Linked DNA regions of Homo sapiens. The protein of the gene in region 4 interacts with the protein of the main gene of each other region in a pairwise test. Each region holds a gene or a part of one and is shown on either strand. Other genes may lie near its edges.

Region 1 (8,023 bases), on a different chromosome or scaffold from region 4:
AAAAGGCTGGCTCATGCTTGCAATCCCAGCACTTTGAAAGGCCGAGGCGGGTGGATCACCTGAGGTCAGGAGTTCAAAACCACCCTGACCAATATGGAGAAACCCGTCTCTACTAAAAATACAAAATTAGCTGGGCATGGTGGCACATGCCTGTAATCCCAGCTACTCGATAGGCTGAGAATTGTTTGAACCCGGGAGGCGGAGGTTGTGGTGAGTCGAGATTACGCCATTGCACTCCAGCCTGGGCGCCAAGAGCAAAACTTCGTCTCAAAAAAAAAAAAACAAAGCCGACCCAAACTGTCCAAGATTCCCCTCACAAGATTATGTACTTGTAGGCTTAGTTTGATGTTTTTGTTTTTTTGTTTTTTTTGTTTTTTTTTGAGACAGAGTCTCAGTCTGTCACCAGGCTGGAGTGCAGTGATGCGATCTCGGCTCCCTGCAACCTCCACCTCCTAGGTTCAAGCAATTCTCCTGCCTCAGCCTCCCGAGCAGCTTTGATTACAGGCGCCTGCCACCACACCCAACTAACTTTTGTATTTTTAGTAGAGATGGGGCTTCACCATGTTGGCCAGGCTGGTCTCGAACTCCTGACCTCAGGTGATCTATCCGCCTTGGCGTCCCAAAGTGCTACGATTACAGGCATGAGCCACCACGCCCGGCCTCTAGTTTGAATTAATGATCTGATCAAGTACAATTCACAGCTGTGAGAACCAAATGCCATATAAAAGTGACTGTTTTTTTAATTTTTAGAGACAGGGTCTCACTATAGTGCTCAGGTGGGAGAATGCAGTGACTATTCACAGGCACAGTCATTGTACACTACAGCCTTGGACTCAAGCAATCCTCCTGCTTCAGCCTTCCCAGTAGCTGGGACTGAAGGAATGAGCCACTGCAACCAGCGAAAGTGAGCATTTGTTACCCAGTTTCCTTCTTTCGGAATACAATTAAAAGAGTTATATAGTTCCAAGCTTTGCTGCCAAGGAGAATCACTAATTTATTTACAGGTTTAGATTCAAGAATAGCAAAAGGGTAGTAAACATCCAGCAGTAAGACCATGAAAACATTATATCCATCTATATATTACTCTTGGTGATCTCTTACTGATATGACTTTAACCAATCAACCTTCTACATACAAATGCTACAATGGAAATGTCCAACCAAATTCTGAATTTTTAAATTAATCAACTTATCAGCAACTGTCTATGCAACATAGTCATCAAATTGAAAAGCAAAATCCAGGCTGGGCACGGTGGCTCATGCCTGTAATCCCAGCACTTTGGGAGGCCAAAGCAGGTGGATCACGAGGTCAGGAGTTTGAGACCAGCCTGGCCAACATGGTGAAACCCCATCTCTACTAAAGATACAAAAAATTAGCCGGGCATGGTGGCGCGTGCCTGTAATCCCAGCTACTCGGGAGCCTGAGGCAGGAGAATCGCTTGAACCTGAGAGGCGGAGATTGCAGTGAGCCGAGATGGAGCCACTGCACTCCAGACTGGGCGACAACATGAGACTCCATCTCAAAAAAAAAAAGAAAGAAAGAAAGAAAGAAAAGCAAAATCCAGATTACCAAAGTTATACTGGCACCCTTTGGACAAAACAACTAAATTTACTTTTTGCTAGGCTAAGTGACAGCCCAATTGCTTCTGAGGTAACACAAACCAGACACGCACTCTGTATCTAGTTTTCTATTTATATTACCTCAACTAAGATTTTATAATCCAAAAAACCTTGAAAAGTGTACATGATAACTTGATATATGAAAAAAAGTTGCCTAATACTAAAAAGGAAATGCATAATTCACAACATTAATAACATGATTTTGTATGTAGGGAGTATCTCCTACCTTCACATATAATGCTTCCCTAAAAATGGTTTAAAAGTTAGAAACCAGGAGATTGAACCAAAGACAAAGATTACATTCTCAATTAATTGATATCCTAAATATGGATCCTCCAAGTGCTACAGAACAGGTGCCTTTTTTGAGTCCACTGACAGACCCGCCAACCATGCCTATCTTCTAGAGAATGGCAAAGTCTTCCAGAGAATGGCAAAGTCCAGCCAAGCCTCTCCCTTCACAAGGGCTACCTACTCCTCTCTCTGACTTCTCTGCAGGGACAGGTCAGAAGATCAGCAGCAACTATTCACACTGCCTACATAACGTCCTAGATACCTACAAAGCAGGGAGAGGCAAAAAGGATCCTCCTTCCCTCTTAAGCATATGGCTGCCATGTAGGGCTTCCCCAGGCTCTTGAGGATTTGGGTTCTACTGGTCATGGGCAGATACCCCCTTGAGCACCAGCCTATAAACAACCAGACACCTTCCCCAAGCATCTGGTGAGGTACAGAGAAGAAATTACAATAACCATAGTACCTGGGCCCCCAAAAGCTTAATTCTTCTCCAATGTGATACCCAATTGAGAATCACTAATGCAACAACAGCCTCTCAACAGACTACTGTGTTTTCAAAAGTTTCTACAATGCACTCGAATTACACTTCAGCATAGAAAATAACAAACTGGAATCTTTTTTTTTGGAGACGGAGTCACAGTCTGTTGCCCAGGCTGTAGTACAATGGCACCATCTCAGCTCACTGCAACCTCCACCTCCCGGGTTCAAGCAATTCTCCTGCCTCAGCCTCCCAAGTAGCCGGGACTACAGGCGCAAGCCACCACGCCCGGCTAATTTTTTGTATTTTAGTAGAGACAGGGTTTCACCATGTTGCCCAGGCTGGTTGGTCTCGAACTCCTGAGTTCAAGCAACGCCCGGCTAATTTTTTGTATTTTAGTAGAGACAGGGTTTCACCATGTTGCCCAGGCTGGTTGGTCTCGAACTCCTGAGTTCAAGCAATGCCCGGCTAATTTTTTGTATTTTAGTAGAGACAGGGTTTCACTATGTTGCCCAGGCTGGTTGGTCTCGAACTCCCGAGTTCAAGCAATCTGCCCACCTCAGCCTCCCAAAGTGCTAGGATTACAGGCATGAGCCACTGCGTCTGGCCAAGACACTGGAATTTATATGCTCAGGGCACCATTCCTGTGTCTGAATACCAAAACAGTCTACTCACCAAACATACTATCATTGCTCCAAACTAAAACAGGTACAAGCCAGGTCACCTTTTTGTTAGCCAAACTAAAAGTTCCAGCTGTCAGTAATATTAATTTTTTTTGAGACAGGGTCTCACTCTGTTGTCCAGGCTGGAGTGCAGTGGCATAATGATGGCTTGCTGCACCCTCAATCTCCTGAGCTCAAGCACTCCTCCCAAAGTGGTGAGATTACAAGCATGAGCCACTGAATCCAGCTTTAATTTTTTTTTAGCAACACACATGTAAATGTCCATAAGATAAATTGTTTATAATTTATCAGAAAGAATGTAACAACAACTATTACAAATCAATGTCTAATTTTATTATGGCAGTGTCCAATAACCTATCAAATAACTCTTAAGATGCCAAAAAAAAATTTTAAGCACCATTTCACTAAAAATTAACTTAAGGCCAGGCACAGTGGCTACCCCTGTAATCCCAACACTTTGGGAGGCCAAGGCAGCCAGACCGCTTGAGCCCAGGAGTTGGAGACCAGTTTGGCCAACATGGCGCAACCCTGTTTCTACGAAAAATACAAAAGTAAGCCAGGTGTGGTGGCACACGCCTGTAGTCCCAGCTACTCGGGAGGCTGAAGCAGGAGGATTGAGTTCAGAATCCGGAAGTTCGAGGCTGCAGTGAGCTGTGATCACACCACTGCACTCCAGCCTAGGTGACAGTGTGAGACTCGGTCTCAAAAAAAAAAAAAAAAAAAAAAAAGCTTCAAAAAATTCCAGGCTGGGCGCGGTGGCTCACACCTGTAATCCCAGCACTCTGGGAGGCCAAGGCAGGGGGATCACCTCTCTACTAAAAATAAAAAATTAGCCAGGCGTGGTGGCACATGCCTGTAATCCCAGCTACTCAGGAGGCTGAGGCAGGAGAATCGCTTGAACCTGGGAGGCAGAGGTCGCAGTGAGCCGAGATCATGCCATTGCACTCCAGCCTGGGCAACAAGAGTGAAACTCCGTCTCTCACACACACAAAAATTCCAGGAAAGCATGATATCAAAGGATATCCTAACTCTTATAGTCTGTTTCCCATTCTGTCACTGAGCTGCTGTTAGTTCCTTTCACCTGAGTTTATTCCATGTGAAAATTGAAGATATTATTCAGACTTCAACAGAGTGCTCCAGAAATATTTATCAACTGCTGTAAACTTCACTAGAAATGCTAAAGAAATGTTAAAAAAAATCTTATCAATACTTTACAAAGAAAATAATACCATCAACAAAAAGTGTGCTTACCTATTCACAAAGATATAGAGCCTTACTAGCAAATATAAAAATAAAATTGCTGTTTGTGACTATGATCCTAAAGTGTAATGTGTTTTTTTTTTTGTTTTTTGAGATGGAGTCTTGCTCTGTTCCCCGGGGTTGGAGTGCAGTGGCATAATCTCGGCTCACCACAACCTCCGACTCCCAGGTTCAAGCAATTCTCCTGCCTCAGCCTCCTGAGTAGCTGGGATTACAGGTGTGCACCACCACACCCAGCTAGTTTTTGCATTTTTAGTAGAGATGGGGTTTCGCCATGTTGGCCAGGTTGGTCTTGAACTCTTGACCTCAGGTGATCTGCCCACCTCAGCCTCCCAAAGTGCCAGGATTACAGGCATGAGCCACTATGGCCGGCCAGATTCCTAAAGTGTAATTTCAAAGGGCCACAAAACATTTTTTTTAGACAGGGCCTTGCCCTGTCACCCAGGCTGGACTGCAGTGGCATGATCTTAACTCACCACAACCTCTGCCTCCTGGGCTTAAGTGATCCTTCTGCCTCAGCCCCCAGAGTAGCTGGGATTACAAGTGCATGCCACCATACCTGGCTAATTTTTTATCTGTTTTGGTAGAAATAGGCTTTTGCCATGTAGCTCAGGCTAACAAAAATATTTCACAATAAAAATTTAATTTACTAATTTCAAATGGGGGTGGGGAGAGAAGAGTAGCTACCAAATCAGCTTTAACCAAATTCAGCTAGAAATCAATGCTTTAGGCCAAGCGCCGGGAGGCAGAGGTTGCAGTGAGTTGAAATCGCACCACTGCACTCTAGCCTGGGCAACACAGCCAGACTCCGTCTAAAAACACAAACACAAAAACAAACAAAAAACCAGATTGGCCAGGCATCGTGGCTCACACCTGTAATCCCAGTACTTGAGAGGCAGAGGCAGGCGGATCACCTGAGGTCAAGAGTTCAAGACCAACCTGGCCAACATGGCAAAACCCTGTCTCTAACTAAAAATACAAAAATTAGCTGGGTGTGGTGGCAGGCCCCTGTAATCCCAGCTACTCGGGAGGGTGAGGCAGGAGAATCGCTTGAACTCAGGAGGCAGAGGTTGCAGAGAGCCAGTCTGGGCGACAGAGCGAGACTGATTCTGTCTTTAAAAAAGGAAGATAAAGTGTTTAAATCATTATTCAAGTGAAAGGTATCACAATCATTGTGGTAAAATTTGTTTTATTGATAAAAAAATTAACAAAATTCATATACTATAAAATAAGGTTAATAATAAAAAATAAATCAGTGCTTTAAGAGCATGTAATTTAACATGATTCCTTTAAAATACACAAGTGAGGCCAGGCGCTGTGGCTCATGCCTGTAATCCCAGCACTTTGGGAGGCCACGGTGGGCAGATCATGAGGTCAGGAGATCAAGACCATCCTCGCTAACATGGTGAAACCCTGTCGCTACTAAAAATACAAAAAATTAGCCAGGCTTGGTGGCGGGTGCCTGTAGTTCCAGCTACTCAGGAGGCCGAGGCAGGAGAATGGCGTGAACCCAGGAGGCGGAGCTGGCAGTGAGCCGAGATCGCGCCACTACACTCAGCCTGGGCGACAGAGCGAAGACTCCGTCTCAAAACAAAACAAAACAAAACAAAACACACAAGTGAAACAACCGTTGTCACAATTTTATTTGGGTGTGAAATATGGACCATCATCAGTAAACATTAAATTCAAACTACGTGTTAAACATGGCTGGGCACAGCGGCTTACATCTGTAATCCCAGCACTTTGGGAGGCCAAGGCCAGAGGATCACTTAAGCCCAGGAATTTGAGACCAGCCTGGCCAACAGTGAGACCTCATCTCTACAAAAAAAATAAAATTAGCCAGGCAAGTGGCCACGACTGCAGTGAGCTGAGATCACACCATGAACTCTCATCTGGGCAACAGAGTGAAATCCTGTCTCAAAACACACACGTGCGCATGCGCTCAAAACACACACACACACACACACACACACACACACACACGCACGCACGCACGCGCATGCGCAAACCCTACCACATGATCTAGCTTAGCCAAGAGAAAAAAAAGCGTATATCCATACAATGTTCATAGCAACTTTACTGGTAATAGCCCAAAACTGGAAATAACCCAAATGCCACCAAGCATTAAGAGGTGAATGCATAAACAAATTGTGGTATATCCACATAATAGAATACTACTCAGCAATAAAAAAAAAATGAACTAAATAACATGGGTGAATCTCAGAATTATAAGTGAAAGAACCCACACAAAAAGAGTATGTACTGAATGATTCCGCTTATATATACAATTCTAGAAAATGTAAAATAATCTACAGTGACAGAAATGAGATCAATGGTTGGAAGGGAGGGAGGGAAAGATTACAAAGGGCCACAAGAAACTTTGGGGGAAGATAAATATGTCTCCTCTCTTGATAAGGATAAGCTTCATGGGTGATACATAAAATTAAAACTTATCAAAAGTATCACTTTAAATATGTACAGTTAACTGTATGTCAATTATACCTCAATAACAAAAAAGAATCCAAGATGCCAAAACTAATTCTACAGTTCCTGTTAGATCTATCTGCTCATAAATATATTTAACCTACCGACTTGCAGTATGCACTCTGAGAATACAAAATTATGCCTAAATTGAGGATCACCATTATCACAAAAAACATCAAAGTTTAAACAATGAGGAAATTAGAATTCATCTTTAATCACTATGCCAGGCTATTTCAGTGCCAAAACGATACCAACTAAAACACAACACAACAAAACAAGAGCCCGCTGAGTGTAGGGCTCTGAGATTTTTAATTAAATATTTTAATTCAAATGTTTACCTTCTTTGATCTAGAATCCCATTTCGGGAAAACAGAAATAACCCAAAGAAAAGCCTATGCACAAAGATGTTAATTTCAATCTTATTCATCAGAGAAAAATGGCAAAGAATTAAATCAATGGCACAGCCATGGGATGGCATATTACATGAGCTACTTTTTTTTTTTTTGAGACTGAGTTTCGCTCTTGTTGCCTAGGCTGGAGTGCAATGGCGCAATCTCAGCTCACCGCAACCTCCACCTCCCAGGTTCAAGCGAATTGATTCTCCTGCCTCAACCTCCCAAGTAGCTGGGATTACAGGCATGCGCCACCACGCCCAGCTAATTTTGTATTTTTTAGTAGAGATGGGGTTTCTTCACGTTAGTCAAGCAGGTCTCAAACTCCTGACCTCAGGTGATCTGCCCACCTCAGCCTCCCAAAGTGCTGGATGTATAGGCATGAGCCACTGTGCCCAGCCTAGTCATTATTATTTTTTTTTTTTTGAGACGAAGTCTCACTCTGTGGCCCAGGCTGGAGCACAGTGGCGCTATCTCTGCTCACTGCAAGCTCCGCCTCCCGGGTTCACACCATTCTCCTGCCTCAGCCTCCTGAGTAGCTGGGACTACAGGCGCCCGCCACCACGCCCGGCTAATTTTTTTTTTTTTGTATTTTTAGTAGAGATGGGTTTTTACCATGTTAGCCAGGATGGTCTCAATCTCCTGACCTCATGATTTGTCTGCCTCAACCTCCCAAAGTGTTGGGATTACAGGCGTGAGCCACCGCGCCCGGCCCCTAGTCATTATTTTTAACTGGGAAAAACAGTTGCAAAAATATTAAGCAAAAACAGGGCAGACACATACAGTATGATCAACAGGTTGAAAACAATACATCCT
Region 2 (7,947 bases), on a different chromosome or scaffold from region 4:
GCCTGAGCATCAGTTTCTTCTATTAAATGGGGGCGAGAAATGCATGTGGAGCATTTCCTTGTAAAAACCTGAGGGTGGGCTGGGCACGGTGGCTCATGCCTATAATCCCAGCACTTTGGGAGGCTGAGGCGGGAGGATTACTTAAGCCTAGAAGTTTGAGAGTTTGAGACCAGCCTGGGCAACATAATGAGACCTCGTCTCTCCAAAAAAAAAAAAAAAAAAAAAAAAAAGGCCAGGAATGGTGGCATGAGCCTGTAGTCCCAGGTGCTTGGGAGGCTGAGGTGGGAGGATCACTTGAGCTCGGGAGGTCGAGGTTGCAGTGAGCTGTGATCGTGCCACCGCACTAGCATGAGACCCTGTCTCAAAAAGAAAAAGAAAAAGAGAAACATCCTGGTGGTAGAGGGGAAGGGAGGAGGTCAGACCTGTCACTCTCCTCTGCTCTCCTCTGGCTCAGAACTTCCTGAATGCTGGCAGCTTTCCTGAGATCCAGGGCTTTCTGCAGCTGCGGGGTTCAGGACGGAAGCTTTGGAAACGCTTTTTCTGCTTCTTGCGCCGATCTGGCCTCTATTACTCCACCAAGGGCACCTCTAAGGTAAGGTCTTGAGGGTACCAGCCCCAGCCCCTCCAGTCCCTGGTCCTTTTAGAAGTTGCCCCTTCTCTGCTGGAACCTCTGAGCCCTTCTCCCCCTGGGCCCCCCAGGCCAGCCACCTCCAGTTTACCATCTCTCCCTACATCCTTGCCTAGCTCACCTGCCCAGGGAGGTAGCAGGAGAAAAGATGATCTTAGTTTAAGTCCTGGCTCTACTTCTATTTGCTGTGTGACCCTGGGTATTCCCCTGCCCCTCTCTGGTCCTGAAATCTCCCCACCTGGCTTGTGGGGGGAGGTAATAGTGGGCGGGATCTACCTGTACCAAGTCCTGCTCACTCATGCTGCTTAGGATCCGAGGCACCTGCAGTACGTGGCAGATGTGAACGAGTCCAACGTGTACGTGGTGACGCAGGGCCGCAAGCTCTACGGGATGCCCACTGACTTCGGTTTCTGTGTCAAGGTGAAGACCTGGCCAGGCCTGGCCCCTGGCCTGGGGAAGCAGGAACTGCTCAGGCCCCTGGATCCTGCCCGGGGCTTCTGAGCCCCAATTCAGACACCTAGACTCCTCTCCCTGCACCCTGGCCTGCTGGAAACTCCTGGATTCAGCTCTGCTATGTGGAGCAGGGGCAGACATGTGGTCCTAAAGGCAGATATGGGACCAGTCAATTTCCTCTCTCTGCAGCCCAACAAGCTTCGAAATGGCCACAAGGGGCTTCGGATCTTCTGCAGTGAAGATGAGCAGAGCCGCACCTGCTGGCTGGCTGCCTTCCGCCTCTTCAAGGTGAGACCCTGGGAGTGGCATGGGGGGCTGGCCTGGCCAGAGGGATCCCCAGCTCTGCCCTCAGGAAGTCTCAGGAATGAGGAGGGCATCACAGCCTTGCTCTCTGATAACCCCCAGTCCAAGCCTGAAGTTATAGGAAGTGCCCATCGAAGGCAGAAACACAGCCCTGGTCTGGGCAAGTCCTGGTCTGAGGGGGGCGTCACAGCCACGCCCCCAGGACCTCTCGACCTCAAGCTCTCTTTCTCTCCCCACCCCCAGTACGGGGTGCAGCTGTACAAGAATTACCAGCAGGCACAGTCTCGCCATCTGCATCCATCTTGTTTGGGCTCCCCACCCTTGGTGAGTGTGCCCAAGGGGATGGGAGGGTGGGTATGCAGGCCCTGTCTTACGGGTACCTGGGCCCTGTTCTGACCTCTCTCCTCTCCTTCCATCTCCAGAGAAGTGCCTCAGATAATACCCTGGTGGCCATGGACTTCTCTGGCCATGCTGGGCGTGTCATTGAGAACCCCCGGGAGGCTCTGAGTGTGGCCCTGGAGGAGGCCCAGGCCTGGAGGGTGAGGCCTGCTGTGTGTGTGTGTGTTTGTGCTGGGGACCCACTCTCTGGGTGGGATCCCTGAAATAGGAGGGAGGAAGAGAGGGCGGGGGGAGGCCCCTGGCTGGGAAGAAGTGCTCTACCTTCCTGAGGTGCTGGGTAATGCCCCCAAGCACGCCCCGACTCTCCCGTATCTCCCACTGCTCCACAGAAGAAGACAAACCACCGCCTCAGCCTGCCCATGCCAGCCTCCGGCACGAGCCTCAGTGCAGGTGGGTGACGGCCCCGAGTCCTGGGGCGGGGGCTGCCTCAACTTCTCTTTGTATTCCCAGTGGGGAGTAGATGGTATAGGGGTCCCCTCCCCAAAGTGACCGCCCATGTCCTTCCCCACCACAGCCATCCACCGCACCCAACTCTGGTTCCACGGGCGCATTTCCCGTGAGGAGAGCCAGCGGCTTATTGGACAGCAGGGCTTGGTAGACGGGTAAGGGGCAGGGCCGGGCAACAGACCCAGGGATAAGAGAGACTGGGGTCCAGGTGGCAGCCATGGTCCTTGGGTAGTAATGCTGCCCCATCTCCTGTCTTCTGGCAGCCTGTTCCTGGTCCGGGAGAGTCAGCGGAACCCCCAGGGCTTTGTCCTCTCTTTGTGCCACCTGCAGAAAGTGAAGCATTATCTCATCCTGCCGGTGAGCTTCCCTGCGTCCCCGGAGTCCTGCAATGAGACACAGGACTCCCAGCAACCTGTCCTCCTCACCAGGCCCCTCCAGAGGCTCCCTGGCCCCCAGTGCGTCTCCCTTTTCCCTGCACAAGAAGTGGGAGGCTGAGTGCGGTGGCTCACACCTGTAATCCCAGCACTTAGGACGGCCAAGGTGGGAGAATGGCTTGAGCCCAGGAGTTCGAGACCAGCCTGGGCAACACAGGGAGACCCCATCTCTACAAATAATTTAAAAATGAGCCAGGCATGGTGGTGCACACCTGTAGTCCAGCTACTCAGGAGGCTGAGGTGGGAGCATTGCTTGAGCCCAGAGGGTCAAGGCTGCAGTGAGCCATGGTGGCACCACCACACTCCAGCCTGGATGACACAGTGAGAAAACTGTCTCAAAAAAAAAAAAAGAAAGAAAAAGAAAAAGAAAAAAGAAAAGAATAAAAGGAAATGGTGGGGCCCTGGCCCAGGAGGGAGCTTCCCAAGCCTCGGGCCCCTCCCTGAACTTCCACCCCCTTTACTGTACCCCAGAGCGAGGAGGAGGGCCGCCTGTACTTCAGCATGGATGATGGCCAGACCCGCTTCACTGACCTGCTGCAGCTCGTGGAGTTCCACCAGCTGAACCGCGGCATCCTGCCGTGCTTGCTGCGCCATTGCTGCACGCGGGTGGCCCTCTGACCAGGCCGTGGACTGGCTCATGCCTCAGCCCGCCTTCAGGCTGCCCGCCGCCCCTCCACCCATCCAGTGGACTCTGGGGCGCGGCCACAGGGGACGGGATGAGGAGCGGGAGGGTTCCGCCACTCCAGTTTTCTCCTCTGCTTCTTTGCCTCCCTCAGATAGAAAACAGCCCCCACTCCAGTCCACTCCTGACCCCTCTCCTCAAGGGAAGGCCTTGGGTGGCCCCCTCTCCTTCTCCTAGCTCTGGAGGTGCTGCTCTAGGGCAGGGAATTATGGGAGAAGTGGGGGCAGCCCAGGCGGTTTCACGCCCCACACTTTGTACAGACCGAGAGGCCAGTTGATCTGCTCTGTTTTATACTAGTGACAATAAAGATTATTTTTTGATACACCTATGAGTTCTGTCTGGCAAGGCCTGGCTGGCTGAATCAAGAAGGGAACCAGAGCTGGACGTGGTGGCTCATGCCTGTAATCCCAGCACTTTGGGAGGCCAAGGTAGGAGAATTGCTTGAGTCCAGGAGTTTGAGACCAGCCTGGGCAACATGGCAAGACCCTGTCCCTACAAAAAATAAAAAAATGAGCCGGGCATGGTGGTGTGCACCTGTAGTCCCAGCTTCTCAGGAGGCTGAGGTGGGAGGATCCCTTGTTCCTTGAGCCTGGGATGTCAAGGTTGCAGTGAACTGAGATTGTGCCGCTGCACTCAGCCTGAGTGACAGAGTGAGACCCTGTCTGGAAAAAAAAAGAGGGGAGACCTGGAGAGGTGGGCACCTGTGGAGGCCTTGGTGGAAGTGTCAAATGGATCGAGGCCATGTCTCAGCCTGCCTGGATGTTCCTCAAGGGCAGGAGTGGTTATCTGAGAGTCTCCAGTGCCCACCATGCAGCTTGACACATAGTAGGCGCCCAGTCATTGCTAATTAAGTAAGTGAATAGACAAGAGACCATCATCCCAGAGAGATTTTCTGACAGTCTAAGTCTAGAGAGGTAATTAACAGGGCCTGGGAGTTGGAGATGAGTCCGACAGCATGCTTGTCCTCCGCTAGTCCTGGACTAGCTGACGGATAGTTGGCCCCAGCATGCACACAGTTATGCATCCAGCCCCACCACCAAGACACAGAATGGCCTCATCACCCCCAACAAGTCCCTGTGCCCCCTACTATCAGCCATGCTCCCTCCTACCCAAACTGAAACCTCCTTTCTGTCCTAGTTCTGCCCCTTCCAGAAAGCCATATAAATGGAGCCTGCTAGCATTCAGCCCTCTGCATCTGGCTTCCATCTCCAACACATCCTTCAGCACCCAGAGTGATCTTTTCTCAAATATAAATTCACCACTCCCGGCAGGGCACTGTGGCTCACACCTGTAATCCCAGCACTTTGGGAGGCCGAGGCGGGCGGATCACGAGGTCAGGAGTTTGAGACCAGCCTGGCCAACATGGCAAAACCCCATCTCTACTAAAAATACAAAAATTAGCTGGGCATGGTGGCGGGCACCTGTAATCCCAGCTACTAGGGAGGCTGAGGCAGGAGAATAGCTTGAACCGGGGAGGCAGAGGTTGCAGTGAGCCAAGATCATGCCATTGCACTCCAGCCTGGGCAACAAGAGCAAGACTCAGTCTTAAAAAAAAAGACAGATGTCTGGCCTCTGCCCACTGCTCATGCCAGTCTATGTTTTTGTCTTAGAGGTTTTTTTGTTTTGTTTTTTGAGATGGAGTCTCACTCTGTTGCGCAAGCTGGAATGCAGTGGCACGATCTCAGCTCACTACAACCTCCTTCTCCTGGGTTCAAGCGATTCTCTTGCCTCATCCTCCCAAGTAACTGGGATTACAGGCGCTTGCCACCACGCCTGGCTAATTTTTTGTATTTGTGGTAGAGACGGGGTTTCACCATGTTGGCCAGCCTGGCCTTGAACTCCTGACCTCAAGTGATCCACTCACCTTGGCCTCCCAAAGTGCTGGGATTACACACCCAAGCCACTGCGCCTGGCCTTGTCTAAGAGTTTTTTAGTTTGAGCTCTTACCTGATGGGAGCTCTTTAATAAATATGTCAGATCGACTGCATCTGAACTTGCTGCTTAACTCAGGAGACAGACCCTCCTGCAGACCTGTGAACCCCAACTAGTCATTGTTTTTGTCAAAACACCAAACCTGAATCTGATTCCTTGGATTCAACAACTAGTTTACGGGAAATACAAGGGAAACAATGACAAAAATCCAGATTGGGAAATTCTACAGAACAGATAACCCAGTTTCTTCTTCAACAGCAACAAAATTACCAGAAAAGATGGGCAATCTCTAGATTTCAAGAAATTTAGACATATATCAACCAAATGATGTGTTGACCTTTGATTCAAATGCAAACTAACTGTAAAAAGCATTTATGAGCAATTGGGGGAAATTTGAATTCTGATCAGATATTCGATGATATTAAGGGATTATGGCTAACTTTCTAAGGTGTAATAATGGTATTGCAGTTACGGTTTTTTCTAAATCTTTATCTTTAAGAAATTCATTATGAAGTATTTAAAGGTGAAATCACATGATGTCTCAGCTTTGTTTTTATTCCTTTTCTTTTTTTTTTTTCCAACTTTTATTTTAGATTCAGGGAGTACATGTGCAGGTTTATTACCTGGGTATATTGAGTAATGCTGAAGCTTTGTTTTTAAAATAACCCAGAGGTGGCCAGGCACAGTGGGTCATGCCTGTAATCCCAGTACTTTGGGAGCTGAGGTGGGAGGAGTTTGAGACCAGCCTGGGCAACATAGTGAGGCCCTCTCTACAAAAATAAAAAATAAAAAATTAGCCAGGTGTGGTGACATGCATCTGTGGTCCCAGCTACCTGGGAGGCTGGGGTGAAAGGATCGTTTGAGCCCAGGAAGTCAAGGCTGGTGTGAGCCATGATTGCATCTCTGCACTCCAGCCTGGGCCACAGAACATGACCTTGTCTCAAAAAATAAAAAGAAAAAAATGAAATCCAGAGGTTAAAGGAGAGGGTGTGGGCATAGTCATGGTGTGGCCATGAGTTGACACTGGCTGTTGATATTGGTTGAAGCTTGGTGACAGGTACTGGCTATGTGGGGATTTGTTAAATTATCCTCTCCACCTTTGTATATGCTTGGATATTCTATTATATATTGATATATTTTAATGGAGAGCCCCTTCTCAAATCTTTGGGACTGACTGGGCAGGAGGTGGTGAGACGCTGTTTTGTAGGTGAGGAAACTGACGGCCCAGTGGGCAGCCTGGCCCCAGATCACAGTGGGAGAGCCAAGATTCCAACCCAGGTCTGAGGACCAGGTCTGGGCATGTTCTGCTTCCCCTGTCTGGCTGACGTCCAGGTGGCATTCCTCAGCCACAGTGACAGCAATAGTGGCCTACTGGGGTCCTCCCTTAGAGAGCCCCTCCCTTCCCTGCAGCCTTGGTCTCTGGCCTGGAGGGTTGTCCTGAGGTGACCTTGAGACTGTGCAGCCTCTGCAATCAGCCCCTGGGCTGGGTCTGGCAGCCCTGGCAGCCACTCCCGACCAAGGCACCCCCATCCTTGGCTAACTCCAGGCTGGGAAGCTGGGACCAGGTCCAGCAGACAGAGGTGGGCAGAGAGGTCTCATGCACACCCCAGCCTGGGACCTCCTGGGAATCTGCTGGAAGAACTTACTGCAGCCCAAGGGCAGGAAGGGTGGCAGATTTTGCTTCTTTTTAGCAGGACTGGAGGCAGGACCCAGTGCAACCTGCTGCCTGCCACCTGCCACGGTTCCCAGAGCCATCCCCACCACAGGCTGTGGCTCGAGCACCGAACAGGGCAGTGTCAGCTGTGTGGCTGGCCATGGGTGCCCAGGGCCACCTCCGAGGTGTGGGTGCCAGAGTTCCAGGCTGGAGTGAGAGTAAAGGGGTCAAGATGAGTCACCTCTTCAGCATGTCCAGGGGTTCAGACTGTAAAAAAAGAGGACCCAGTGTCCCTTCACAGCCTGAGGCACTGGGCAGAGACAAAGCCTCTCTGTCAATCAGCTAATTGGAGACTGTGAGACAGATGTCCTTCCCACTTTACAAATGGGAAACTGAGGCTCAGGGAAAGACAGGGACTCACCTGCGACAGGGGTCGCAGAGGGAGTTCGGGACAGAGGCCAGACTCAGCCCACTGGACAGGTGGTGAAATGCAGCCCTGCCCTGCTCTAGCCTTTGTTCTCTGCCCCCTCCCTTCTCAGTGCTGGCCACAGTGAGGGACCTAGGCTGCCGAGAGCCCTTAGAGGGGGCAGCATTTGGCCCTGATCTGGCCACCTGAGACCAGCAGCAGCCCATTCTTGGTGAGTGTCTGAGATTTCTGGCTTTTTGGAGACGTAGCTGCTAAGAGTTTGGGGGCACAGGGACCCTCTCAGGGCCAGCTCACAGTGGAACCCCTGGGTAAGATCCCCCAGCTCTGAGGATGTGGGAAGGATGCTGCTCTACCTCAGAGACTGCAGCATGACCTACAGTGGTCAGACAGCAGAAAGGACTGCCAAGGACGGCTGCAGTGCTAGATCGGGGAGGCTTGTGGTTCTGAGAAAATCTGGGCTGGTGGGAGGGGAAGCAGGGGCTTCTCTGGGGGAGAGGGTGGGGGCTGGGACCTCAGATACTGTCTTTTCAAAATTGATTTATTGGGTTTCATTCTAAAATTATACGTACTTATTAAAAACATTTCAGA
Region 3 (8,023 bases), on a different chromosome or scaffold from region 4:
ACTTCCAGAACTAGATCTTGTGTGCACCATCTTCCATCATGATGCTGCATACCACTGTACACGTGTAAAGCTCACAAGGTCGGACTGCAGGGTGACAGCGTTAAACCTCAGAACATCAACTAATGCCAGATACTAAAATCAAATTCTCTCATCTTAACATGTTTTATATTTTATATAGTCTTTCAAACATCATAATCTAACATGCTGTCAGGAATTTTAATTATCTGTATACAGCCACAAGTTTAGTCACAAATCTCAAGAAAAGTCAGTGCTGGGACAACGGGTCACTAAAGAACCTAAGCCCCATGGGGTCACGCCACCATGTTCTCCCAATTCACAGCTCAAAAATCTCCTTAGAGGTTGGGCGCGGTGGCTCACGCCTGTAATCCCAGCACTTTGGGAGGCTGAGGCAGGTGGATCACGAGGTCAGGAGATCAAGACCATCCTGGCAAAACACGGTGAAACCCCGTCTCCACTAAAAAGTACAAAAGAATTAGCCGGACGTGGTGGCGGACGCCTGTGGTCACGGCTACCCGGGAGGCTGAGGCAGGAGAATGGTGTGAACCCGGGAGGCGGAGCTTGCAGTGAGCCAAGATAGCACCACTGCACTCCAGCCTGGGCTACAGAGCCAGAGTCCGTCTCAAAAAAAAATAATAATAAATATCCTTATAAACTCATCCCAAATGAAATGCATCAATCACGCACAAAGCTGTATCACTTACATTGCCAACCGAGTGGGATTAGCTCAAGTTCAGAAAAATATGAACAGATATAGGAATACAATGCTGACCCTGACAACCCAACTAACTAACCCAGTCACCTGGATACAGGGAACCACAGCTCACAAAGTACTGCCAAAATACATGTCACAAGTCCATGAACTCCACTTCCTACACTCTGCTCACTCGGAGCCCTTTAAATTATTACTCCAAATATGCTGAATTTTCCTTCCGACATAATTCTAGCCCGTTACCCTTTGGTGTCTGCAAGCACAGATTTAGAAGCAGCACATTAGGAAACGGAGGTCTGATGGAGACAAGGCCATTAACAGCGGCAAGTGCACTCAGCAGAGAAGGAAAATCAACTGAAGAGCAAATACAAGCATATAAAAAACACAGCTGTCTTTGGAGACCACACAGCCTCCATGGGCCAAGGGCATCACCAGGCTACAGGCAAGAACCACACATGAAGACGCCCAGAGTCAAAAAAGGGATGAGGAGTATCATTTTCTCATGAAGAACACAGGAAATGGTACCAACCACAGGACAGAATGCGGCACTCAAAGATCAGCCTGACATACGTGGATTGGACGCTGTTTATAGAAATTATTAATTAACGACAGACAAATGAGGTATTTATTATTATTAAACACTTTTAGAAATTCTCAAGATGTTACATGGCAAAAAAAAATTACCAAAGGAAGGTTTATCTTACAATCTCCAGCCCCAACTATGAATGGCTGATTGCTGATATAATAAATTCCTTTTTAAAGTTCTATATTAATTTTACTGCAATAAAAATCCCATTAAGTTGCCTTACACACCAAAGTCCAACATTTCTGTAAGAGAACGTCTCTAAAAGCCAAGTGAGATCCTTGATAAAACAAATACATGTTTCACACCTCCAAAATCTGTTCATGTAAGTTCTCGTGGTCTAGAAAGGCCATGAGAAGTGCTCAAAGCTTGTTGCGAGGTGATGAGTTTTTCACACTCACCACTTGTCACTCAGTGCTCTGGCGTTGGGGCAGCACCCGCAGCAGTCACCAAGGCTGCACCCAGTAAAACACGAGTGTGCTGAGGTTACGCCAAGGAGCAGTGACAAAACAACTGGACCCTGGCTCTGAAATGCAGAGAGGTAAGCAAAACTTGGTTGTTCCACAGAAACAATGACATTTCTATAAAAGCAAAGCAGATCCTCCACATGATCACTAAGTTGGTGCTAAAATTTCTCCAATACAAATTAGATTTGCCAAAGTTTGAATGGCTAATGTGACTAAACAATTATGACGTCTGGCATACCAAATCCTTGATTTCTACACAGAAAGAGCAATGCAAAACCTGAGGACTTTAAAATATTTTTAATATATTAAATGATAGGCTATTTGAAACCTTCTAAAACACTTACCTTTCCTCTAATTTGGGAGCTTTGGGACAAATTGTATCTAGTTCTTCAGATGCTTCTAGCTCCTAAAATAAGCACACATACCAGTTTTATGAAAAAAATTATTATAACATAAATCTCCTTGATCATACCATAACACAGATTATTGATCAATCAACTAATCAGAAATACTGTGTATTCATTGCAGGTTCTTATTAGTAAATATAGATTCATAAGAAATTTGTATCTTAGATTTATCACAACATTTTAAAAAGTATGCTCTAAATGGAATTTCTTTACAAAGCACAGACTTCTCAATTCTAACCTTAATTATATCAAGTCCTCCTATGAGCTCTCCAGAAACATAGAGCTGAGGATAGGTAGGCCAACTGGAATAGGCTTTGAGTCCCTGTCGAACCTCTTCATCTGAGAAGATATCAAAACTGCTAAACTGAATATTATGTTTGTGAAGAATTTCCACCATCTGCTTGCTGAAACCTGTACACAAAAAAAGAAATAAAGCACTTAACTTCTCTCTCCCAAAACACATACACATGATAATACATTAGTTCAGCGTACATATCATCTAAAAGACATAGACGCCTGCCTTATTTTGCTGGTGATTTAATTAGCATGGCTGAATAATATACAAAGAGAAAATAAATTCCTGGATCCCCTTATTTGACCTTGAACCATATCACACACTCAGATATGACTTAACTTTTTGACACAACTGTGACTACTGAAAAAAAAAAAAAAAGTGGTGTGTGTATTTATTAAAGTTATTCTTCAATATCATGGACATTTTTTGTCACAGGAGAAATAGCACTAGCCAAAAAGCAGAGACCTGGGGGTGATGGTGCACACCTGTAATCCCAGAGACTGGGGAAACTGAGGCAACAGGCTCACTTGAGCCCAGAAGTCTGAGGCTGGAGCGACCTATGAGATTGTCACTGCACTCCAGCCTCCAGTTTGAGTGATAAAGCAAGACCTTGTCTTTAAACAAAACCAGAAATCTGAATCTGACACCTGCTCCCTCCACCCACCAAGGTGACACATGATGAGGCCATGGGTGGCCTCCGCTCAGCACTTTCCTACTAATCAGGAGACTGACCTGATGCTCTGACAGTCCCTCCCAGCCTTTCTGTTATGAATCTATGAGAATCAATTCTGGGCAGATGAAAAAATTCTACAATTGTTATTTTTAACTACTACTTGACTATACTTAAAACCCAATGCTGTTGCATTTCTACTGCCATTTTACTACTTCCTGAGTTCCCACTTCAGTAGTTCTCAATCTTCACTATCTCTAAGTAGGATAAATTAGAAATCAAGAAGGCATGTGTTCTCCTGTAGTCTAAAATACACACAGTACATTGAATTTTAAAGCTATCTTCTCTGTTGTTATATATGAACCATCAATAGATTGACGGTATTCTTTCTCATCTCATGTCATAACTTGACAGTTTCTTTTTTAAAACTATTTACATTCCCTAAAGTATGTAATGTAATTTTTTTACTACACTATAGCGACAATTTTATGTTCCATGATTTTATTATACTTTTGTGACACATTTTTATTCTGTACTTTTTTGACATCATCTTATTATGACATTATAACTGAAGAATAAGAGTGTGAATATCAGTCTTTTATAAACCTATTAGCCTAGTCTGAAAAAAAAAGTATTTTTCTTTCCATAAGCTAATTCTTCTCCATTGTTCCCAATACTATGTAGGGCCCTACTCTTTCACGCCTCATTCTTCTTCTCAAACACAGTTGTAATTCACTGGAAAAGAACCTATTCTTCAGATTCAAAATTTCTATAAGACTTAGCAGTGTCAGCAATTGTTTTTAAATAAAATCAAACCATAAAATTCAATATAAGATTAATTGCAAGAATGGGCTTTACTGATGTCACCCAAAATCATATTTACTATTAAAACATGGATCTACAAGTGAGCTCTAAACATTTTCCAAATCTGCAGTTTATTGAGATGAAGCACTAGTATTTATTTGTATAGCATATAAGTTGCTTTTCCTACATCTGAAGTGTTAAGTTCATGTACAGCCTGAAGTAAAACACTGATTCTGAAATTTTTTTATTCATCTGGGAGTTCATTAGTAAACAGCTAACGGCTGATTGCTGATGGTTATTCTGTTGCCAATATATTAACTCATTTTTACTGTAACTGGCTGAGAAGAAGCTTTATTTTAGCTTTAGGCAATTACATGCAGACTAGAAAGATTGATTGGTAGTGTTTCATTTTTAAGAGTTAAAGTGGCAGACTAGAAATGTTACGCTTAAGGATAAGATGGCAAGAAGGCTTTATTCTAGTAACAAAATATTTACACACCTTTTTTTAAGAAAAATGCATGCATGCAATAAAAATATTTAAATGTAGAAAAGTAATGTTTAACTGCCACAGAATCCCCATTTCCACCCCCAGTCATTTCTACTCATGACATGAATAGGTGCCTAACACCGCATCTCATCACTACCTAACAATAAACCCTAAAAAACATCTCTGAAACCTGATTCTGTGGCTGATTCAAAAGTAAGAGCCCGGCTGGATGACTCTCACTGCAGAAGGAATATCTGACTATGCCTCAAATACCTTTTGCTTTGCTAAAAGCTTTGTTAACTGAAATAGTTATAAGAATTCCCAAATAATTAACCTGCTCAAGGATTTAAGATTCTGTTTAAGATGACATATACCTCAGTGCTTCTGGAAACTCTTCCTAAAACAAGCATTTTCCCATCTTCATGAGGAGCACAGAGTAAGGACAATCCAATTCTTTTCAACTGAGACCCTATCTACACGTCAGGCTCATAACACACCATACAATTCTGCAGGTAGAGCCCACATGAAGGATAAGAAGATGGAGACATGACCTGTGCAGGGGTTAGGCTGAGTCCAGTGGGGCTCCAGGAGAGACCCTAAAAATGGCTTTCAAGGTTTTCTAGATATAAAATTTAAATGTTATTCATTCATGTTTTTCTGATTAGCAGAAAGCAAGGTGGGGACAAACTAATCAAAAAACAAACATCAAAATACTCCGCAGTGGGAGTTCAGTGGTGTTAGCAGAGATAGCACTTTCAAAGCTAATTTGGTGCAAAATAAGGAAAGAGCAGCCACGTGCGTGTTCACAAGATGAGATGGCCAGTGCTTTTATAAAGGGAGCTTTGCCTACGCCCTTCTCTAAAATGCCAGAAGAAGAGCAAAAACAATGCTCCACTAACCAGGCTCAGAAAGGAACAGCAGAGGGTCGAGGTGACTTATGTTCCCATAAGAAAACAGTTTAAAAATATTTTCCAATTAATCCTAAGTATTTTATTAAAGAACAGCAACATTCTTAAATGATCTATTTACTATATGTGACAGAAAGACATGAAACAGAAAATATCAGGAAACAGAAAAACCCACTGAAAATGTAGTTATAAAAATTATATAGAAGTACTTTAAAAGAAGAAACTGTAACCATTCAACCATATGTATCTCAAAATATTTATTGTCTTTTATTAATTAAATAACTATAATACTACGTTTTCAGATGGCTCTGAAATGTGTTTTGTTTTGTTTTGAGACAGAGTTTCACTCTGTCACCCATACTGGAGTGCAGTGGCTCGATCTCGGCTCACTGCAACCTCTGCCTCCCAGGTTCAAGCAATTCTCCTGCCTCAGCCTCCCAAGTGGCTGGAATTACAGGACTCCACCATGCCCAGCTAATTTTTGTATTTTTAGTAGAGACGGGGTTTCGCCATGTTGGCCAGGCTGGTCTCGAACTCCTGATCTCAAGCGATCCGCCCACCTCAGCCTCCCAATGTGCTGGGATTACAGGCATGAGCCACCACGCCCAGCCCTGAAATATTTCAAAGCTTCTTTTTTATTCTGTTATTTGTACAGTCTTCCAAATCTCACTCCATTATAATAAACATAATTTAAATAAGTTTAATATAAATATAAAAATGCTAGCAGTATATTTTAAATTCAGTTTAATAAAGTAAAAGGTAAGCAGAAAAATTAAAATGTCTAAGTTTCTCTCTAATTTACTTGAATAATCATACAATATCTACACTGAAAAGGCCCTCCAAGATTGGCTCCAACAGCCAATCTTGTTCCCAACAGCACTAGAAGGAATTAAAGGCACAAGGAGGGTACCTGACTTGTCCCCAAAGTTGCTAAGGCCGCAGGGGTGGGCCTGAGGCTCGCCTGGCATGACACCCAGTGCAGCACACTTCCCAGGACATCCTTCTCCTCTGAGCACTCCTTCCCCAAGCTTCAGTGTTGCCACCTGCCTTTTCATTAGGTTTATCATTCAGAAAAGACTGAGACTGCTGCTGTTCAACCCCAAAGGAGAGAATACTGTAGAGATTTCACTGTAGGTGTGCTTCACCCACATTTCACAGCCAGTTCTACTGTACCTGAGATCTGAATGAAGGTGCTGAATACAATCCATTCAACTGAAGTGGTAAGTTCCCATTTAGTGGCCACCGCACAAAGTACAAGAAATAATTTTCATGTTTCATGGAAGAAGGTGAATGTGAACCATTTGCAACCCCCGTTAAAAACAAAATAACAAACGCAACAGAGACTATCTGTTGCTACCTTTAGTTTAGTACAGACTAAGTTAGCTTTGCAATACACAAATAGCAGGCATTATCTGACACATAAATACTGGCAGGGAAATTTTTTAGGCAGAACTAAGAGATACTTTTAAGACAGAATTCATGGTGGCTCACGCCTATAATCCCAGCAGCACTTTGGGAGGCCAAGGCAGGCGGATCACCTGAGGTCAGGAGTTTGACACCAGCCTGACCAACATGGACAAACCCTATCTCTACTAAAAATACAAAAAAATTAGCCGGGCATGGTGGTGGACACCTGTAATCCCAGCTACTCGGGAGGCTGAGACAGGAGAATCGCTTGACCCCTAGTAGACAGAGGTTCCGTCGCACTGAGATCGTGCCATTGCACTCCAACCTGGGCAACAAGAGCGAAATTCCATCTCGAAAAAATAAGAATTCATCATGAAACTTTATTTTTAAAACTAGACATTATCATAAGCTAATATGTAATTTAATAACCCTACAGGGAAGAATTTAGAATCAAATTCACACTAGAAGCTTGGCTATCTTTATAAAGTCACTCTGGACATGCTGTAATCATATCAAGAGCATACTCAATGTTACTGCCCCTATCTTAATAAAGTCCCTCCTGTGTAGTTGATACAAATACTCTTAGAGTCTCAACAGCATCATCAAATGGCATTAAATGCTCAATTATGCAGCATACTAATGTTGTACTAGGCACAGTAAAAAGAAAATAACATAAACCCACTACCAGAGGGGTCAAATAACTCTAAAACTTACTTAAGGACAAAATTATAAGCATCCATGTGTACAGAAAATAAGAGTGACTACAAGCCAAGAATTCGGAATCTTTCCATTACCAGCAGCTATAAACTGGAAATGACAGCAATGCAGGAAGAGAATCATTAGACAGTGATGACACAGGGGAGGCAAAAGCACACAGGCTGGACACAAAAACACTGAAAAATTCCGCAAATTTTTTAATTGCTGAATCTGAACTAGGTGAAAAACAGGAGGCTGCCAAGAAAGAAAAAATAACTGTTAACAGCAAAAGTAGATAAACAGGCAAAAGAGACAGCAATATGGTAGTTGGAACCTAATCCTAACTCTGCTTACCAGGTGACCTTGGGCAAGTCACCTCTATCTTTGAGTCTGAGGACTTCAGTATAAAACAAAAATCTGAATTAGATGAGTTCTGAGACCCCTTTTGGTTCCAACATGCTGAGTCCATAATGCAAACTAATTCTTATATAGTGTCATTGGGAATTATAACCTTTTTGATTTTCTAAAAGTATGTGAACACAAGTATAAGATGTATGGTATAGCATCCT
Region 4 (8,023 bases):
CAAGGTAATTTATAGATTCAATGCCATCCCCATCAAGCTACCAAATGACTTTCTTCACAGAATTGGAAAAAACTACTTTAAAGTTCATATGGAACCAAAAAGGAGCCCACATTTCCAAGACAATCCTAAGCCAAAAGAACAAAGCTGGAGGCATCATGCCACCTGACTTCAAACTATACTACAAGGCTACAGTAACAAAAACAGCATGGTACTGGTACCAAAACAGAGACATAGACCAATGGAACAGAATAGAGTCGTTGGAAATAATACCACACATCTACAACCATCTGATCTTTGACAAACCTGACAAAAACAAGAAATGGGGAAAGGATTCCCTATTTAACAAATGGTGTTGTGAAAACTGGCTAGCCATATGTAGAAAGCTGAAACTGGATCCCTTCCTTACACCTTATACAAAAATTAATTCAAGATGGATTAAAGACTTAAATGTCAGACCTAAAACCATAAAAACCCTAGAAGAAAACCTAGGCAATACCATTCAGGACGTAGGCATGGGTAAGGACTTCATGACTTAAACACCAAAAGAAATGGCAACAGAAGCCAAAATTGGCTAATGGGATCTAAGTAAACTAAAGAGCTTCTGCACAGCAAAAGAAACTACTATCAGAGTGAACAGGCAACCTACAGAATGGGAGAAAATTTTTACAATCTACCCACCTGACAAAGGGTTAATATCCAGAATCTACAAAGAACTTAAACAAATTTACAAGAAAAAATCAAACAACCCCATCAAAAAGTGGGCAAAGGATATGAACAGACACTTCTCAAAAGAAGACATTTATGTGGCCAACAGACACATGAAAAAATGCTCATCATCACTCGCCATCTGAGAAATGCAAATCAAAACCACAATGAGATACCATCCCACACCAGTTAGAATGGCAATCATTAAAAAGTCAGGAAACAACAGGTGCTGGAGAGGATGTGGAGAAATAGGAACACTTTTACACTGTTGATGGGACTGTAAACTAGTTCAACCATTGGGGAAGTCAGTGTGGCAATTCCTCAAGGATCTACAACCAGAAATACCATTTGGCCCAGCCATCCCATTACTGGGCATAAACCCAAAGGATTATCAATCATGCTACTATAAAGAAACATGCACACGTATGTTTATTGTGGCACTATTCACAATAGCAAGGACTGGGAACCAACCCAAATGTCCATCAATGATAGACTGGATAAAGAAAATGTGGCACATATACACCATGGAATACTATGCAGCCATTAAAAAAGGATGAGTTCATGTCCTTTGTAGGGACATGGATGAAGCTGGAATCCATCATTCTGAGCAAACTATCGCAAGGACAGAAAACCAAACACCACATGTTCTCACTCATAGGTGGGAAATGCACAATGAGAACACTTGGACACAGGGTGGGGAACATCACATACCGGGGCCTGTTGTGGGGTGTGGGGGAGGGGAGAGGGATAGCATTAGGAGATATACATAACGTAAATGATGAGTTAATGGGTGCAGCACACCAACATGGCACATGTAAACATATGTAACAAACCTGCGTGTTGTGCGTATGTACCCTAGAACTTAAAGTATAATAAAATAAAATAAAATAAAATAATTCAATAATTGGTTATTGTGCCAAAAAATACTTCCCTGTCAGTGAAACTGAATAGTTCTGGAGAAATATGCTTTCTCAACTATACACCCATCAACCAGAAGAACCCATGCTTGGTTTTAAAGTTAAGGATAGGTTTACTTTTTATTACTCTTTTGTTTGGTTCGAATATTTCCAGTGATTTCCAGGTCAAATGTTTACTTTGTTCATCACCATAAAAAAATTCCAAGACACATAGATTACACCAGGGCAGTCTTCTAGTCATCTAGAAATCAAATACTGAAACCCTAGGGAATCTGGTTCCATTCTTAGGCTTTATGTCCCATGTTGAATCCTAACAGCATTTGAAAGCCTACTATGTGCAAAACATTATAGGTTGTTAATAACTGCAATAGTAACATTGCATGTAAAAATATTACAAACTTCAGTGGACATCATGCACTATGGATACATATTCTACTAGAAGGAAGGATGTTTTCATATTCTCTTGCATAAACTTGCTGCTCTAGCCTATGGACAGATTATTTCATCTTAAAAGATAATTAAAACAGAAAAAAAAAATAATGGAATGTTTATAAACATATGCAATTGCCAATATGGTTTGTTGTTTTATTTTATGTTTGTTTTTTTTCCACAGGAGAGCAGAAGAAAAACTTATGGTTCATAAATGCTTAATCAAGTGTCGTTGATTCTCTAAAATTTCTCCTCAAAGATGCCTGGCAAAGTATCTCCAAGAGCTTTTAGCATTCTATAATCACGCATTCTGATTTGTTGCACAAAGGGAAAAATAAAATCTAGAATTGCTTAGACGGTAGAACTATTTACAGTATTTTATAAAACTGGGCTATATTAAGTACAGTGTTACAAGGTGGTTACTATATTGTACTATTTAGTAGATACTTTCTGATGTCTTTTAGTATATAACATTTGGTTTAAAGATGAGTATATTTTGAATATATTAATTATAAACACAGCATTTTGGTATTAAAATGTTGACCCTCAGATCCTTAGTCAAGATATAACTTTTACCATATTTTTCCTTTGGGGATAAAAGAACAAACTTGCACTATTATTATTAGCTTATGTAATAAAAAAATAAAATTTTATATTGTTTTATATTAAAAAAATTTAATATATGAAACAATTGAAGTTTTATGTTAAGCTTCTCTAATAATCACTTTCACAGAAATTAAGCTAATAAATAAATGTTCAAAATGATTTCATATAAAACTGTAGCTCTGAGTTAATATGTACAGCTAATCATCTTTTCATAATCAGTTTGTTTCAACTTTTCATGTAAACATACTAAAAATTCCTGGAATGCAGATCTGAATAATTACACATGAATTCTTTTTAATTTTTTATTAAAAATGAAAGAAACACAGCTAAACAATTTATTTACAATTGCACAAGGTTTGAAACAGCTATCCTATTCCTGTTAAAGCTTCACATTTAAAAATGTCTACATCATATGTGCTTGTACAAGGCTTGAGTATCAACCACAAATGTGACTTTAGCAGCTTTATTGCATAATGATCCACATAACGCTGCATTATTTGCTTAGTTTAGCCTACATCATAAAGTGCTATTCATAGATGGGAAATTAACAGCCTGCTAAACACTGAAGTTCTCCATGATATTTGCTACTTGAGTTGAGGGTAAAAAGCTAATTTAATGCTACCAGCCTGAGTAACAGATTTCCATTAAAAATATAACAACAAGGACAACCAAAAAAAACAGGCCTAAAAGTTTTGGTTACCCTGTTAAAACATGTCAAAAGCATTCCATAAATGATTACTGCTACAATGCATAAAAGTAGTTTCTGAATATTTTAACCTCAAAAAAATAAGTACTTTAAATAAAAACCACCTACTTGAAAGCAACACCTTTCAAAAACAGACACACAATTTAGATAGAATGTAATTCCTCAAATTAAAAGATATTTTAAAGGGTACACAGTCATTGTGATCTTAGTTATCATTTCTAAGTAATTAAATTTGTATTTTTACTTGCTTATATTAGAAATGCTTATTACCAATGAGAAACAGAAAATGCCACATAAGTGAACATTTAAATGTTACAAAAATTTATAATATATGTAACGCTACTAAAATATATAATGAACTTTTCAAACATGTAAATATAAATCAGGAAAACCTGATATGTAATAATTGGGCCAAAAATGAAAATCACAAAACACAGTAAGGGGGTAAAAGAATAAATATGACTTTTAATATCAGTCCATCTTTACCAATATATCTGAAAAATAATTCTTTGACATAAGAACAAATATTTTCACAGAATAAGAAAAACTAAAGATAAATTTCTCTGAAAAAAAGTATATAAAGTGAGAAGTTTAATGTGTTAGCTGAGAACTTTGTGTTTTCTGCAAGAAACCATGCTTACTACCCATGCTGTTAAATGAGTGTTATGGCTAAGCAGACTCTTAAAATGTCCTTAGCAATACAGTTTGTGGTCTTAACAAAACAAAACAGTAGTATTCCTTTTCCAGGCAATATATTTTTAATAGTTACACACTTTAAAATACATAATTTTCCACTTAAATATACTACCACTTTTATGGTGTTTTTCTTTTAACCTATCTAGAACTTTGTTTTCCTATTGAAAACAAATGCAAGACACATTGCTTAGTACTAATTCCTATCCATAAGGCATTTAAAAAATATCTTCTCTTAGGACATAAACATGATATAAAAATGAAAAGTCAAACAGAAGAGAATCATAATAAATACTTTTGTATCCCCCCCACCATAAGGAAAGTGTCAGCAACACCAGCTGACAGAAATAAATTAGATATCCTGTACATAAAGTAAAAGACAGTCCAGTTGCAAAGTTAACCACTTCAGTATTAACTTGGAAAGAACATCTTCACTTTCATCATTTGTGAAAGGCAGAACAACGACATGAAGACACAAGGCTGTTTAGATTTTCTGTATTTCAAGAAGAATCATACTCAAACACAAGTGGGGTGACAGAACACTCAGCGATATGTAATTAGTTACGAAGGTTAACGCTAAGGCATTGCTTTGTTTACAGTTTTTATCCTGAGTCACATCAGATGTTTCAACTACATGTCCTCTTGGTATTCCAGATATTTTGCTGTGATGGGTTCTTCAAGCTGAATTCCTCCACTGCCCATTAATGCAAATGCTGGATACAGTGTATGTGAACAGTCCACTTGGCGTTCATAAAGGCATTTCATCTGATCCATATCATAGAAATCTACTTTGCCTTTATCACAGTCAAGGAAAATCCCAATACTTGTTGGCATAGGGAGAACTCTATTTTCAGGTTCATTAGAAGAAGTAGGTGACTTGGGTATAAAAAATTTCTGCATGCCTATAGTAACTAAGGTAAATGGTTGTGAAGAATCAAAACAGGCATCCTCACTTCCACTGTCATGCCCACTGTCTTGCTCATATCTGAAACATAATACAAAGCATCTGTATCTTCAACAATAGATCTAAGTATCTTCAAAACATTTTCACAGGATAATATACATTGATGTAAAGTTAAAATAGTTTTTACATCAAAAGCTTTCTATTAAAACAAAATCAAAAACATAAAAATGACACATTACAATTTAGAATTATACCACAGACTCAGCCCCAAATTCCCTGTCATTAAACACTGCTTTAGTTATATACAGAAGTGAAACCCTAGAAAATCATTGATAATTTTAGCCTTCCAAAAAGTGAGGGAGCGGGCAGTGATAACTGGTCAAATGTTAAATTTTTATAGCACACAATCATGTACAATCATGTACCACAGAACATTTCAGTGAACAACAGACCTCATATACCACAGTGGTCCCGTAAGACTATAATGAAACTAAAATATTTCAGTTGGGTGCAGTGGCTCATGCCTGTAATCCCAGCACTCTGGGAGGCCAAGGCAGGAGGACCACTTGAGGCCAGGAGTTCCAGACCAACCTGGCCAACATGACAAAACCATATCTCTACTAAAAATCCAAAAATTAGCCAGGCATGGTGGTGTACGCTTGTAGTCTCAGCTACTTGGGAGGCTGAGGCATAAGAATCACTTGAACCCAGGAAGCAGAAGTTGCAGTGGACCGAGATAGCACCACTGCACTGCAGTCCTGGCAACAGAGCGAGACCCTGTCTTAAATAAATAAATTCATTCATTCATTCATTCCTATAGCTTAGTGACGTGGTAGCCACTGTAAGGCTGTAGTGTAACCCATTACATGTTTGTGGTGATACTGGTGTAAACAGTGCTTAAAGTTGTTACATAAAAGTGTAACACATACAATTATGTACATTATGTAATATTTAATAAGTGACTGTTACTGGCTCATGTATTTATTATGCAATGCTTTTATTGTTATTGTAGACTTACTCCTTCTACTTATTTAAAAAAATGTTAACTGTAAAACAGCCTCAGGCAGGCCCTTTAAGGAGGTTTTCCAGAAGGCAGCACTGTTATCCTAGGAAATGACAGCTCCATGTATGTTACTGCCCCAGAAGACCTTCCAGTGGGACAAGACGTGGAAGTGGAAGACGATGATATTGATGATGTTGACCCTGGATAGGCTATTATGTTTGTGTCTTCATTTTTAACAAAAATGCTTAAAATGTTAAAAATTTAAAAAATTAAAAAAAAAAACTTGTAGAACAAGGCTATAAAAAAAATTGGGGGGGGCCAGGAGTGGTAGCTCACGTCTGTAATCCCAGCACTTTGGGAGGCTGAGGAGGGCGGATCACCTGAGGTCGGGACCAGCCTGACCAACATGGGGAAATTTCATCTCTACTAAAAATACAAAATTAGCTGGGTGTGGTGGCGCATGCCTGTAATCCCAGCTAGTCGGGAGGCTGAGGCAGGAGAATTGCTTGAACCCAGGAGGTGGAGGTTGTGGTGAGCCGAGTTCATGCCATTGTACTCCAGCCTGGGCAACAAAAGCGAAACTCCATCTCAAAAAAAAAAAAAAATGTATATAGATGTACAATGTGTTTGTGTTTTAAGCTAAGTGTTCCTACAAGAGAGTTAAAAAGTTTTTTTAAAAATTGAAAGTTTAGGCCGGGCGCGGTGGCTCACGCCTGTAATCCCAGCACTTTGGGAGGCTGAGGCGGGTGGATCATGAGGTCAGGAGATCGAGACCATCCTGGCTAACAAGGTGAAACCCCGTCTCTACTAAAAATACAAAAAATTAGCCGGGCGCGGTGGCGGGCGCCTGTAGTCCCAGCTACTCGGGAGGCTGAGGCAGGAGAATGGCGTGAACCCAGGAAGCGGAGCTTGCAGTGAGCTGAGATTGCGCCACTGCAGTCCGCAGTCCGGCCTGGGCGACAGAGCGAGACTCCGTCTCAAAAAAAAAAAAAAAAAAAAAAAAAAAAAATTGAAAGTTTATAAAACTAAGGTTAATTTCTTAAAGAAGAATACATTTAAATAAATTTAGTGCAGCCTAAGTGTATAGTGTGTTTGTAAAGTTTACAGTAGTGTGCAGCAATGTCCTAGGCCTTCAAATTCACTCATGGATGCACCCAGAGAACTTCCAGTCCTGCAAGCTCCATTCATGGTAAGTACCCTATAGAAGTATACAATTTTTTATCTTTTATAACTTATTTTTATTGTACCTTTTCTATGTTTAGATACACAAATACTTACTGTTGCATTAAAATTGCCTACAGTATTACAGTACATGCTGTACAGGTTTGTATTCTAGGACCAAAGACTGTTCCACATACCCTAAGGGTGTAGGAGACTATTCCATCTAAGTTTGTGTAAGAACACTCTATGATGTTCTCGCAACAATGAAATTGCCTTGCAATATATTTCTCAGAACATATTCCTGTTGCTAAGCTAATACATAAATGTATAAGAAACTACAGGCCAGGTGCGGTGGCTCACGCCTGTAATCCCAGCACTTTGGGAGGCTGAGGCAGGTGGATCACCTGAGGTCGGGAATTCGAGACCAGCCTGACCAACATGGAGAAACCCCATCTCTACTAAAAAAAATTAGCCGGGTGTGGTGGTGCATGCCTATAATCCCAGCTATTTGGGAGGCTGAGGCAGAAGAATCGCTTGAACCCGGGAGGCAGAGGTTGCGGTGAGCCAAGATCGCGCCATTGCACTCCAGCCTGGTCAACAAGAGCAAAACTCCGTCTCAAAAAAGAAAAGAAAATACAAAGATAAGATGTATGCCCTAAACCAAGGATTACCAGGCTAAGTGAAATATATGAGCACTGTAAAATAATGCAAGAGAAAAAAGCATGTTTCATTCTCATCCTAAGAACTCTATTTCCTGGTTGGGATTTCATCATGGATGTATGAAGCAAACAAAGATTATGAAGCTTTTTCACCTTTATCATAAAACAATAAAAAACTTATATAAAATTTTGAAACATGTTCCCCATTTTTTTCAATATGCCTATGTTGCTTTTTATATA

What was found.
Region 1: the proteins of TRIM36 (region 4) and UBE2H interact in a two-hybrid assay, tested with the Homo sapiens proteins (one large-scale study listed by BioGRID and IntAct).
Region 2: the proteins of TRIM36 (region 4) and GRB7 interact in binary tests that used the Homo sapiens proteins (3 or more experiments, as listed by UniProt).
Region 3: the proteins of TRIM36 (region 4) and GLRX3 interact in binary tests that used the Homo sapiens proteins (3 or more experiments, as listed by UniProt).

The regions. Positions count from the first base shown.
Region 1 is NC_000007.14:129,938,438-129,946,460, forward strand, and holds part of UBE2H (ubiquitin-conjugating enzyme E2 H), read right to left. Parts: intron 1-8,023. UniProt on the Homo sapiens protein: Accepts ubiquitin from the E1 complex and catalyzes its covalent attachment to other proteins. E2 ubiquitin conjugating enzyme that transfers ubiquitin to MAEA, a core component of the CTLH E3 ubiquitin-protein ligase complex.
Region 2 is NC_000017.11:39,743,616-39,751,562, forward strand, and holds the end of GRB7 (growth factor receptor-bound protein 7), read left to right. Parts: intron 1-454; coding exon 455-592; intron 593-937; coding exon 938-1,048; intron 1,049-1,270; coding exon 1,271-1,369; intron 1,370-1,486; coding exon of another isoform or gene 1,487-1,627; coding exon 1,628-1,708; intron 1,709-1,806; coding exon 1,807-1,923; intron 1,924-2,112; coding exon 2,113-2,173; intron 2,174-2,297; coding exon 2,298-2,385; intron 2,386-2,493; coding exon 2,494-2,587; intron 2,588-3,135; coding exon 3,136-3,282; 3' UTR 3,283-3,670; downstream 3,671-7,947. UniProt on the Homo sapiens protein: Adapter protein that interacts with the cytoplasmic domain of numerous receptor kinases and modulates down-stream signaling. Promotes activation of down-stream protein kinases, including STAT3, AKT1, MAPK1 and/or MAPK3. Promotes activation of HRAS.
Region 3 is NC_000010.11:130,161,082-130,169,104, reverse strand, and holds part of GLRX3 (glutaredoxin-3), read right to left. Parts: intron 2,599-8,023; coding exon 2,426-2,598; intron 2,187-2,425; coding exon 2,125-2,186; intron 1-2,124. UniProt on the Homo sapiens protein: Together with BOLA2, acts as a cytosolic iron-sulfur (Fe-S) cluster assembly factor that facilitates [2Fe-2S] cluster insertion into a subset of cytosolic proteins.
Region 4 is NC_000005.10:115,121,817-115,129,839, forward strand, and holds the end of TRIM36 (E3 ubiquitin-protein ligase TRIM36), read right to left. Parts: intron 5,042-8,023; coding exon 4,687-5,041; 3' UTR 2,956-4,686; downstream 1-2,955. UniProt on the Homo sapiens protein: E3 ubiquitin-protein ligase which mediates ubiquitination and subsequent proteasomal degradation of target proteins. Involved in chromosome segregation and cell cycle regulation. May play a role in the acrosome reaction and fertilization.